4 separate regions of the Homo sapiens genome follow, and all the other regions are reported to be linked to region 1. The links are microRNA targets in miRTarBase. Many come from high-throughput screens and were not tested one by one. Region 1 holds a microRNA gene; each other region holds the end of a gene's coding sequence. Distances are from middle to middle.

The links. Region 1 holds the annotated microRNA hsa-miR-561-3p (CAAAGUUUAAGAUCCUUGAAGU, at 1,708-1,729, shown strand). A microRNA usually pairs through its seed, bases 2 to 8, with sites in the 3' UTR of a target mRNA and lowers its output. Matches are read on the target gene's strand: a 7mer-m8 pairs with bases 2 to 8, a 7mer-A1 pairs with bases 2 to 7 and ends in A, and an 8mer does both.
Region 2: miRTarBase lists SPIC as a target of hsa-miR-561-3p. Seed matches in the 3' UTR shown: 7mer-A1 at 2,357-2,363.
Region 3: miRTarBase lists TSC22D2 as a target of hsa-miR-561-3p. Seed matches in the 3' UTR shown: 7mer-m8 at 1,149-1,155 and 7mer-m8 at 2,076-2,082.
Region 4: the mRNA of ARL4C is a reported target of hsa-miR-561-3p. Seed matches in the 3' UTR shown: 7mer-m8 at 1,588-1,594.

What each region holds. Positions count from the first base shown.
Region 1 is chr2:188,295,845-188,299,028 of GRCh38, forward strand. MIR561 (microRNA 561) reads left to right here and starts at 1,648; the gene lies at 1,648-1,744. All of the region lies in intron 1 of GULP1 (GULP PTB domain containing engulfment adaptor 1), which reads left to right. RefSeq lists enhancers at 2,768-3,184, 3,098-3,184.
Region 2 is chr12:101,486,092-101,489,275 of GRCh38, reverse strand. It overlaps SPIC (Spi-C transcription factor), which reads right to left. Exons shown (of 6, transcript NM_152323.3): 6 at 2,279-2,932. The coding sequence ends at 2,505. Among named protein-coding and RNA genes, the nearest start is that of SPIC, 12 kb to the right of the region's middle.
Region 3 is chr3:150,458,253-150,461,436 of GRCh38, forward strand. TSC22D2 (TSC22 domain family member 2) reads left to right here. Exons shown (of 3, transcript NM_001303264.2): 3 at 124-3,184. The coding sequence ends at 384. Among named protein-coding and RNA genes, the nearest start is that of TSC22D2, 52 kb to the left of the region's middle.
Region 4 is chr2:234,493,205-234,496,388 of GRCh38, reverse strand. It overlaps ARL4C (ARF like GTPase 4C), which reads left to right. Exons shown (of 2, transcript NM_001282431.2): 1 at 1-377; 2 at 553-3,184. The coding sequence ends at 583. Among named protein-coding and RNA genes, the nearest start is that of ARL4C, 2.3 kb to the left of the region's middle.

The sequences.
Region 1 (3,184 bases):
TTTTAATATAAAATGTCAAATTTTACCTTTCATTTTAAATTAGAAATCCTTAAAATTCTTATTTCCATTGATGAATGGTAGGTGATTTTAATTTAAATTTTACTTAGCAGAGTGATGTATTTGTGATTCAATTCGCGATATTGCAATTTGTTTTCTAAAACCTCTAAAGAATAAAAAAAGTTATTTTATTTCAGTATAATAATGAATTCAAAGATAGTTACAGAAGCTAACTGCATAACTGCCATGAGCCCTGGTCCCTAAACGTATTAGAGGCTGGTGGATCTAATATTGTTTGCCTTAATGCATTTAGAGATCAGGAAACTTAAGCTTTTTCCCATAAGAGCATAAAATATACTCAGATTGGAAGAGGAAAAAATGGTATAACTTTGAATGGAGAAATCGCTTCACTTTCAAATACTGGGGATATGAAATTGAAATCAGGCCTTTATTTTTAAAGAGAATGGCTAAAAGTCATTGTTCCAGAGTAAGACTTAGAAAACAATGCTTATACTGTTTTCAGGCCCTTGTTATTTGCGAGTTTTTTGTTTGTTTTATGCCTAAGAAATGTTTTCAGCCACTCTAATGATGCTTACCATGCATGATTGTCATCAGAGGACAGTTAATTGACTCAAATATTGTGTGGGATAGTAAGTGTCAATTTTCTGTTTACATTGAAATGGTATAGTTATGGCGAATTTGAAATTAGTTTTGTCTTTCAGTGTAGTATACTTAAAAATAGTTTTGAAAAGGCTGCCCTAATTTGCACACATAATATGAATAAGTAAGTTAACTTATATAGAAATTAAGATTTTCAGTATATTTTGTGCTAAATTGCAAAGATTAATATGGCTTTTTAAAGGAAGTTTTGAATAGCCTTGTATGTATTTTCTAGGATGCAACTAAGAGAGTGCATCTAGATATCAATACCTGCCTTTATTTCATGTTTGTTTTTTGCTATTAACATTATATAAATGTACCTATACATCAGCTGTATCATATACCTCCTGATGAAGAAGTTCAGAATAGACCTTAGAAACTTCCATATTTTGGGGGACTACTTTCTCTCTGTCTCTCTGTCTCTGTCGTTCTCTCTCTCTTTGTCTGTCTCTCTCTCTGTCTCCATTTCTTTCTCCCTTTCTGTGTGTGCATACTTATGATACATATATATTCTTTGATGTTTCTCTATTTGTGCTATAGTTTTTCTGTAGGGAAAAATAGCTTCAGTTAATTGATATTTTTGAGCCCAATTTTAACAACTAATTAAAAATGTTTCCCAGATAAGTATTGCTAGAAATCCTAGAAATCCTTTTTTTTTTCTTTTTTCCAAATTCTAAAAGTGTTTTTAGACTTCTATTTATACCTCCGAAAGAAGAGAAAAATAGTTGGCAAGATCTTCTACCTACATTCTTTGTTGTAGGCTCTAATGATGGCATACTCATGGAAGCCCTTTCTACTCTTCTTAAGTAGAACACAAGCACATGTACAGTTAACTACTGTAAGAAGGTAAATTCACTACTTAGAAGTTAGATACTACTGATAAGTTTATCAGGTATTGTGAAGTGAGAATTTTATACAAATGTAGTGTTTTCCTGGTATGGTACAGCTTTTTCTTAATATTAGGTGTTACAGTTGATCCATTTCTTGAAACTTCATCCACCAGTCCTCCAGGAACATCAAGGATCTTAAACTTTGCCAGAGCTACAAAGGCAAAGTTTAAGATCCTTGAAGTTCCTGGGGGAACCATGGATGGCTATCCTTATTTCTATAAGAGAGGAGACTGAATACTGTGGGCTCAGTCTTCAGTCTACCCTCTTATAGAAATAAAGACAATCATTTCAGAGCATACATAATCTACTGACTGAATCATTAATGATTTGCCTGTTTATAGCTGTATAATATTTCATGAGGTGATAACTATTGTTCTCATTTGGTTTGTATTTAAATTAGATAATATCAATTTTAAATATAATTTTAGCCAAAAAAAATCAAACAGAACATTTGTAGTATGGTAGCAAACGTGCAAATTTGGGATAAAAAATTGAAATAAGAGAATAAATGTGATTTTAGCTTCTCAATTTTTTTCATAGCCATTTATAACCATCAAGAGATACCATGTTTTAAGTAAAATTTTAATAGCAAATAGGTTCATTTACCCAGATTTCAACCTAGGTGAATTAAAACATAGGGTTATAAGTACTAATGAGAGTTTTAAGAAACAGTATTTTGTAAAGTATCTTTGAAGGTCAAACTACATGTTATGCTCTGTAATTTATTTTATTTTTGTCTGCTTTGAGGAACTGTGTAGTAATAAAGGACTTTGGTTGATGATCAAACTCTCCTTTTACTTCCTTGATGATGTGTGTTATTATAGTCATAAAGATGTCCAATAACATAAACACTGAACTTTACTAGTAGTGCAAATAAATACAGAGAAAGTTTGGCTGATTAGAAAGAACAATTGCATAACTGAATTAATTTCAAAGCAATTTATCTCTATGCTGAATATGTTAATTAAATATAATTAGAGGGTGTTTATGGATTGTAGTATCTCAGAATATAGTTTGAGAGAATTTTTAAGGAGTCACATTTGAGTAAACAAATTTTATTTGAAATTACGTAAATGCAATATGAAATGGCAAAAGTCTATTGGTATTTTAGATTTATAAAATAGCATTGTTTTAGAGTAACAATGGCTATTGCTTTAAATTTTTATGAATTATTTTTTCTGTTTTAATGCATCACCATGACTGGATATGTAGGAGAAAAACCTTTAAGCTTCTTAGCAGTAAATCAGTAAGAGGTCTCATATTGCTAATGTCTTTAGTCATTTTAAAGGAAGAACTACTAAATTTGTAAAATCTGAGTTATCATAGGTTTAGCTGATTACATTAAGCAGACTAGGAAATTCATGATCAATTTGGAAAAATAAAATTTTCTAGAGTAGTACAGATGAGGTTTTAGAGAACAACATTTTAGACTTGATGTTGTTGGAAGTAAATGCTCGGTGCTGCCAAGTGAATATAGCACTCAGGCAAAAGTTTGCTCAGCAAGGCAATTTACTTCTATAAAAGGGTGCCTCTCACGGATGGAGCAATGGCAAGAGCACACCAGACAAGGGAGGAGAAGGGGATCTTACTATTAATGCAGCTAGTCCCTACTGCTTGTTTTTCCCCTATTGGGTAGG
Region 2 (3,184 bases), not on the chromosome of region 1:
TTTCGAGTCTTTTGCATTAATACACTGAAGTGGGATTTCTAGATCATATAATTCTATTTTTAGTTTTTTTTCGGGGGGGGGTGGAATTTCCATACCATTTTCCATAATGGCTACACCAATTTACATTTCCACCAACAGTGTACAAGTGTTTCCTTTGCTCTACATCCTTACCAACACTTATCTTTTGTGTCTTCATTTGAAAACATTGTTTTGAAATAAAGTACAGGATGATTAAAAACATAATAATAAACATTTTAAGACGTTGTGACAGGTGAGAGATTATATCTTATTGTGGTTTTAATTTGCATTTCTCTAATGATTACAAGAAGAAAGAAAGAAAGAGAGAGAGAGAAAGAAAGAAAAGAAAGAAAGAAAACATAGGGGAAACATATAAGACATTGGTGTGGGTAGTGATATTTTGGATTTGATCCCGAAAGCATGGACAACAAAATTAAATATAGACAAATGGTATCACATCAAACTAAAAAGCTTCTTAGTTCATGACGTGTAGCTAAAACAAACAAACTAAAAAGCTTCTGCACAGCAAAGGAAATAATCACCAGAGTAAAGAGACAGCCTATGGAATGGGAGAAAACATTTGCAAGCCAGACATCTGACAAGGGTTTAATATCCAATACATATAAGGAACTCAAACAACTCAATAGCAACAAAACAAACAAACAAAAAAGCAATTAAGACCTGCTTTCTGCTGACAAAGTCTTCTTCCTTACCCCTCCCTAATAAGAAGGAAGAAAAAAGGCAATTAAAAAAATGGGTAACTCCTCCTTAGTACAGTGGTAAAACTTAAACATTAAAAAAGTTTTGGGGCCAGCTCGGTGGCTCACACCTGTAATCCTAGCACTTCTGAAGGCCAAGGTGGGCAGATCACCTGAGCCCAGGAGTTAGAGACCAGCCTGGGCAACATGGCAAAACAGTCTCTACAAAAAAAAAAAAAAAAAATTAGCTGGGCTTCATCCATGTTTGTGTCACTGCACCTGAGCATAGGTGACAGAGTGAGACCCTGTCTCAAAAAAAAAAAAAAAAAAAAAGCTTTAAGTTGTAAAAATGGGTAAGATCAAAAGAGAAGGAAATAAAAAAATGTGTAAGGAAGCTGAACAGACATTTCTAGTGATGTTTTTAAAGCTATGAACCCATTTTGGCACAAAGGCTTTATCATATGCAGTCATTTACAAAATTTTTTTGTAAAGCCATCATATAAAAGTGTGAATTTTCTCACCTGAGTACATGACAAGAAAATGCTGAAATCAATATATAAATCAAATCATCTGTACTGGCACTGTTAATCTAGAAGAAGGTGGTTGCATAGAGAATAGCAAGAATTTAAACCAGCTTATTGAAGTGTGAAAAGAAAAAAAGAGAGAGCTTCAGAGGTAGGCTTTGCCTCTTAAAAAAATTAAAAATAGCCGGGCGCGGTGACTCACGCCTGTAATCCCAGCACTTTGGGAGGCCGAGGCGGGCGGATCATGAGGTCAGGAGATCGAGACCATCCTGGTTAACACAGTGAAACCCCGTCTCTACTAAAAATACAAAAAAATCAGCCGGGCGTGGTGGCGGGCACCTGTACTCCCAGCTACTCGGGAGGCTGAGGCAGGAGAATGGCATGAACCCAGGAGGCGGAGCTTGCACTGAGCCGAGATTGCGCCACAGCACTCCAGCCTGGGCGACAGAGCGAGACTCCGTCTCAAAAAAAAAAAAAAAAAAAAAAATTAAAAATATAAGTCACTGTCAGTGTTGTGCTTGGGAGTTAGCAGCCAAAAACAAACAAACAAACAAAAAAAGAAGTCATCGTCTGTGAAAAGAAAAGAAAAAAAGAAAAAAGAAAAAGACTTTGCATCCATTGAAGTATGCAGCAAAAGAAAACAATTTTTAAAATAAAATAAAATGGGTATAGTTGGGAGCTTAGCAATGGTCATACAGAATGGAGTAATGGACACTGGAGGCTCTGAAAGGTGGGAGGATGCCAGGGGGATGAGGGATGAAATCCTACCTATTGGGTACAGTGTTCACTATTCTGGTGATGAGGATGCATATTTCACCACTATGCAATATATCAAAGCAACAAAACTGCACTTGTACTCCTAAATCCATAAAAATAAAAAATTATCTTGGCTGAGACATCTTTAAAAAATAATAAAATAAAAAAATAAAAATTTTAATAGAGAGAGAACAGTAAGAGCAGAGCAAGGACCTTAGTCTATACTTTCAAATGGGCTTGATCATTTGAAACAATAAAGTTGTTCATTGAATCTTCACAAAGTATTATAAAAAAGTTGTTCATTGGCAGAATTTCCCAACAAGTTAGTATAGATTACATACTCTTTGATAAAAGCAACAATAAAGTTAATTTTTTTTCCTCTTTAGTATTTGCTTTAAGAGAAAAATCCTAAATTTCTTCAGAGGAGGAAAAAAAGAGAGGGAGGGAGAAATCATTAAAACTTGTAGAGATTTCCGATGCCAGTAAACCATGAAATATGAAAGTATATTTAGCAATCATGGTGATTTAGCTCATGGTAATTGGCATATGTATAATTATAATTTGCATTCCAGTTATTTAAACTGAGATATTCTTGATCAGGTTGAACACACTGTGAATAGAAGATCTCTTTCCCCAGGAAATAGGATGGAGAGAGTCTTTGGAGAATGGCCTCACTGAACTGGTAAGTCAGCTTCCTCCGGATTTTGGTAATTTCCCCACTTCTTCCGTAATTTCTGAGTGCCCTGGCCATTTTCTGGTAAGTCATGGTCTTCCTGTTGCCTTTTCTTTTCCCCCAAAGCTCGGCAAGTTTTTCTTTGTTTTTTGATACAAACTGAAAGATGCCTTTGGTTTTATCTACCCACTGAATACAAGATGCCATCTCCGGATTATACAGGGATTCGTGAAGGTATTCAAACAGTCGGAGCTTCTTCCTGCCTAAAATGAAGGGAAACAAGGTCAAACTCCACCGTGGCTGTAAACCGAGAACATCCTCAGAAAGGGTTTGTTGAGCAACTACTGAATTAAAAGCTGCATCGAGACTGGTTTTTCTCCCACTCACTGCCCTTACGAATGCATGATGGCATCATTTTATGGGATTCGAAGGTAGAGGATCTATTTGGCCTATTGAAGTTTCAACTGGATCTTTCTTTGTTGGAGAAGTTGTTAAGAATGTTGCCTGGCCGGGCG
Region 3 (3,184 bases), not on the chromosome of region 1:
CAGAAACATTAAAAGCAAGAGCAGGAAAACTAGTATAAAAACTTAGCACCAAGTAGGCCAGAACCAGATAGCACCACCTTTATCTTTTCACTCTTTTGACATTCCTAATTTTGTTTTTCACAGGATCTGGTGAAAAGCCATTTGATGTATGCAGTAAGAGAAGAAGTGGAAGTTTTAAAGGAACAAATAAAAGAATTAGTTGAAAGAAACTCTTTACTTGAACGAGAAAATGCACTGTTAAAATCTCTTTCAAGCAATGATCAATTATCCCAACTCCCAACCCAACAGGCCAATCCTGGTAGCACTTCTCAACAGCAAGCAGTGATAGCACAGCCTCCGCAGCCAACGCAACCTCCACAGCAGCCGAATGTCTCCTCAGCATAAAGCTTTCTTAAGCCTCATTAAGAAAAAAACTGAAAGCAATCTATCCTTGTGTGCCACTGGTGTTCTTTCCACTTTATACGAAAGCAAGTAGCCATGCTTTGGTTGTGTGTTTGGCCTTTTCAGTATTAGACAATCATTCTACAAGAGCTTTTCCTCTCTCTGAGATGTCATGCAGCGCTGTTGATGTCCAGTTCTATGTCATCAGTACACAAGGAGAATAATAGATGGGGTTTATTAAAGCGAGCAAAGTCTGCATTTTACCTGGTGCGCATGAGTGGGGTCTTTAAGAGTTTTGGTGGCTCTCCCATGTTTCCTATTACCCATGGATTTACCCTGAGCCTTCCTATCACATTATAAATAACAGTTCATCTAAAGAGCCACTTTTCTTTCTGATTCAGTAACATTTGCCTACATAAGTTTTCATTTATTTGTGTTTTATTTATTACAGGGCTGCTATTTTCATAATGTACATGAACAATGTCACAGAACTTTTTTAATTTTTTTGAATAATTATAAGTATCAGTAAAGGAAGTGAAAGACAGGATTGCATTTAATAGATAAAACGTTTAGGCAATAATTGAACAAAAGAATCCTGGCATATTTCTAACACTAATGGCAATTTACTTATGGTATTTATTTTCAGTAGTAAAGACCCAGCTTGAATGTAAATTTTGTATAGTGTAAGTATGAAGAACATAGTGCAACTGTACAGGTAGTCACCAGTTATTGTGATATGATAAATAATTGGGCTATTTTGATGAAGAAAACTTTGTTCATTTGTTTCTACTTTCTAAGAGAAATTGCCACGATTCCTCTGCTTTTCAACATTTCGTATGACTTTTTTTTCGGGTGGGAATAAAAAGCTGTGAAATTGTTCAACCTACTTTGTAACCAAAGAAGCAAAGCTGTGTAATGGAGTTTGGTTTTTTTTTGTTGTTTTTTTTTTTTTGTCTTTTTTTTTTTTTATAATGCACATTCTTTATGTATTTTTATTTAGTGTTTTCTCAGTCACAATTTTCTTTACTGTCTAGCATGATCTGCATGACCTATAATCTTTGAACCACTTTCGTACCTCATGTTTTTATCCAGCACTCTTATTGTAATATGTACTAGTCTGTGAACAATGTCAAATAAAAGAGAACGAACAGGTAGTTTGGTGGAGCTGAGCTAGTGTACAATACACTAGTTGTAAAAAAAAAAAAAAAAAAAAGTGAGCCATCTTTTGTTCATTTAAAATGGTGTTTTGAATTTCGTATGCAGAAAACGTTTTGTTACATTGCAGATTTTAATGTATTTAATAAATGCAACATGCAGATTAAGTGCAGTGTATACTGAGTATTTAAATTAAAATGTACATTTCATAAATACAGTTTCAAAAGAAAGCATCATTTTGTGTATACTAACACATTAAGTGTATGTCAGAAATTGATGTATAAATATATATTTTAACATTTTCTGAAATTAAACTGCAGTTTTGTTGAAATATTTGGCTCTATATGTGTTCAAAATTTGACTAGATTTGTATTTTCACAGTTCAAAATACTCCTTAAAGACCTGTTAATAATGACTTACTGATAGTTCTTAAATTTTCAAAGTAAAACAATTTAAAGAATGCAAAAATAGTGAGCAATATTTGTACTCAATATTCATATTATGTTAGTGATACTTAAGTAGGAAATCCTTGTCTACCAAAACTTTTACTTGAATTCAGAAAGGTGCCTGTAGAAATTAACATGCACTGCATCTGTAGCCAGCTAGCTAATCAGAGTTAATGAGAACCAGTAGTTAGTTCTCCGTGTTAAAAGACTTATTTGAAGTAAAAATTTAATCAGATTAGCCACAAACAAACAAGGCATAAAATTGGGATGTACATGAGATTGCCAAATATTTTCTATTCTAGTTGTGCTGCAAGACATTGAACAAAATGTTAATGAATAACATTATAAATCAAGGAACTAAGTACATAGGCTTGAGTAAGCAACCCTAAGGATGTGTAGTAAGATTCCAAGTAGAGCTGCTACAGGTGAGATACTTAATGGAATGTGAAACTTCACTGTTGGACTGTTAACCGAAAAGGTTTGCTGGCTGTGCCCCTCCAGTGCTAACTGTGACATGTGATATTTAATACAGGTGGAGAAAAACTAGTCTTAGAAATGGGATTTTTGTGAAAATAGATTCCATTTTGATTCTGGGGCTGGAAAAACACTTCATAAACAAAGTAATAGTCTCCAAGGAAATGAATAATAAGGTTTAAAATGGTAACAGCAGTTATTACTACTTTTATATTAAGAAAAACAGTAGAAAAGGAGAGAAAATATGGGTAGTTCACAGAAGAGATAAATGGCAGTTTCTAAAGGTTCAACCTCTAGTAACCTAAGAAATGCAAATTAATGTTTTTGGCGAATTGTAATAAGTGTCCTAAGTAGCAGGACTTAACATAGAAAGAAAGACAGGCTTTCCTGTGTACTTTTAGAAAGTAATTTGGCAGTATGTATCTAGAGCCTTAAATAATAAGCTTTCCAGTGTAACGACAGGAGAAGATACTCAACTCATGGTCCATTGTTCAAAAATGCAGAATTATTGTGGTGTCTGCCCTCTGCTTTCCCATCATCCCCTCCCCTCAAAATCCAAACTATCCCTACTGTCAACCCTTCCCCCAGCTGATTGTTTAGGATCTTAAGTAACTTCCAATTCAGCTTTGGAGATTTAGTCTCCTGCTCCAAATAGTTGTAAATATTAACTGATTGAGATCCCAATTTGGAGGCACAGTCTTACAGGAATGCCATCTATCTAATTCTGT
Region 4 (3,184 bases), 46 Mb from region 1:
TGGGACGTGGGCGGCCAGGAGAAGCTGCGGCCGCTGTGGAAGTCCTACAGCCGCTGCACGGACGGCATCATCTACGTGGTGGACTCGGTGGACGTGGACCGGCTGGAGGAGGCCAAGACGGAGCTGCACAAGGTGACCAAGTTCGCCGAGAACCAGGGCACGCCGCTGCTGGTCATCGCCAACAAGCAGGACCTGCCCAAGTCGCTGCCGGTGGCAGAGATTGAGAAGCAGCTGGCGCTGCACGAGCTTATCCCGGCCACCACCTATCACGTCCAGCCGGCGTGCGCCATCATCGGCGAGGGCCTCACCGAGGGCATGGACAAGCTCTATGAGATGATCCTGAAACGCAGGAAGTCCCTCAAGCAGAAGAAGAAGCGGTAATGCGCCCGGAGCGACCGGGGAGCGAGCGAGTGCGTCAAGAAAGAATGAATGGATGGATGGATGGTTGGATGGATGGATGGATGGATGAGCGAGAACCCGCGCCCGCGAACAAAGAGCGAACCAAAGCGATGCTTCGAATTTTTAAAACGGAATCTCTGCACCCAAATGCAGGACTGGTGACTTAAGGAGCTGCGAAGTCTGATTTACCGGCCTACTCTCGACCTGCCCCCCACCCCCAGCTCAGGGGACCTTTTGTCTGAACGCCAGAGCTACTGACCAGGTCGGGGGGCCGCGGTGGGGAGTGGAAGAGCCGGTCCTGCTGTCCGCCCTCCCAGCCCCAGGTGGAAGGCTCAGTTGTCGGAAAGACAAAAGCGATTTCTTCCCACTCCTGCAGGGCCAGAAGTTCAGGCTGCCCCGCCTCCACTGGGGGATCGCACCTGTGAATTACCTGAGGTATGCATTTCCCAGAACCGTGGGCGTACCCACCTTGGGGGGCATGTTGGTTCTGGGGGGACCACCTCTCCTTGCATTCAGGGGCTGTGAAGCTGAGTAATTTTCGGTCACAGGGCAGGCCCCTGTTGAAATTTCATTTGTCCTGCTCTGGGCCCAAAGGTGGTGGTGGTTTGGGTCATCAGAGGACTGCCTGGGACGGTTCAGCGGGCACGGAGCGCTGTGCTGGCCTGGCTGGGGATGGCCGCGGAGGTGCCCTTTTCCTGGTGCTTTGTGGTGGCTGCAGAAGACCAGTTTTGTTGAGAACTGCTTTTCAGCCTGGAATCAGACATCTTCCAGATGGTTTGGACCCTGTCCATGTGTAGGTCATTATCACACAAAGAGACCAATAAAAATAAAAAAAATAAAAAAAAAAAAAGACGAACTATTGGAGGTGGTGGCCAATGATGCATTTACTGTTTGCAGGATAGTTAAAGGTGTTTAAAGGGTAAGGCTTTTGGTGTAAATGCTGGATGGGGTGTGTGTGTGTGTGGATATAGGGACCTCCCTCTGTACTGTGTACTGTGTAATCGGCATTAATACCTAGACTCATATGTATGGAATTTTAAATTCTCTTAGCCTACTGATTGGTTTGGATGAGCACACCAGCTGCAGGTGTGTGCTGAATTGCAAGATGGTATTTTTTTTTTTAACCAAGGGATGTCTCTTGTAATACTAACCGCGTGATAATGGGTTTTCAGACATGATGAAAAAAAAAAACTTTTACAAATGAATACTTACCTTAGAAATATTCACCTTAGGAAAAAAGACTTTGCTCTGCCCTTTTATATTCCTTTATGCTGCAAGTGGTGACATGTTCAGATTTCTAATTTGGTTCATTGTGGCCTATCTGGTTTAAGTCTTTCATTAAAAATGTCTCGTTAGAGTATTTGATGTCATGCACCAAAAAAATAAAACCCCACCTTGTTGCAAAAGCTGACCTCGTTGCATGGAATTAAAAGAGAAGGAAAAACACAAGGATGAAGTCTTTCCGAATTCATTCTTGTGGGAACTGGCCTTCGGAGCCAGCCAGCACTTTGGGCAAATGCAAACAACAATGAGTGCTTGAGATAAAAGAAAGTGTGACGTCATGGTCACTGGTACTCAGGCACTTCACAGTTTACTTGAAAGAGGCTTTGGAAAATAGATAAAGTGAAAGAAGAATAAATACATATTTTTAATAATGTAATTTTAAAAATCCTTTATAATCAGGACTGAGTCTTGGTTTGCAGAAGCTGTCACTTACCCTGAAACACAGTATCAAAAGGGAAACTTAAAACATACTGTTTGATTTTTTTATTTCCTCTTACAATCCATGTTTTCAGGTAGAATTATGACTTTCCCCCCATTGTTACACATTTCTTTACAAAGGAGGCCTGTAGAAATTGGACACGATCATGCTTGAGCATGTGAGTTAGTCAAATTATGAGTCCCTGCCTATTGTCCATTACACACCGAATGTTAATTTAAGAACCAGAGGCAGAAGTTCTGGCTTCCTGCTTGAAACCCAATTCTTATATGAAATTTTTTAAAAGCAGAAACCTAGCAGCCCATCTGCTTTTTCTCTTTTGTCGGTGTATTTGGTACCCCTCCAATGCTGGTCTTTTTGTAGAAACTCAGTAGAGAAAGTCTAGCTAAGCAGTGTTGAAAAGCCTGCAAGATTTCAGTTTACATATCGACAGCATATCCACTGATTTCTAAATGGGCTGGTCCCATCATCTGAAGATTCTGTATAGAATTATTAAAAAAAAAATCCATCTTTCTTTATTTTCTTCACATGCGACAATTTCTTAAGCACTTTGACATTTTGGTAGTTCCACACTATTGAGAGAATAATATATTTATTTTGTGACATTGCAGATGCCAAATACTGTAACCTTCTCATGATAACAATACTTAGGTTCAAGATCACTGTTCAAACCCTGTCATGCTTTAAAACTGATGCGAGATGATTTTGTTTTTTGCATAATCAATACTTAAGGGTGCAATCAACTGTTAGTAATTGTGCAGTAAAGTAAAGCCCTGTGGTGTATCAACTACTAGTTAAGAGTCTCAGTTGATTTCTGTAATGTTTGACCTAATAATAGCCCGTTTCGTCTCTGACCCAACAGAGGAAGCACAGATCAAATCACCTTGGAGTGGTCACCAGGGGGACAGGGAGCCCCCCACCAATGTATCAATGGGTGATTTATGATGCCTTCTGCCCTTTGGCGAGTGAATGGGTTTCCCATAGGGGAAGTTGGCCTCCCTCCGTGAGCTTTGGAAATGTTTTCTAATAGACACAGGGAGGCCAGTTCTGTTTCAGAGCAATTAT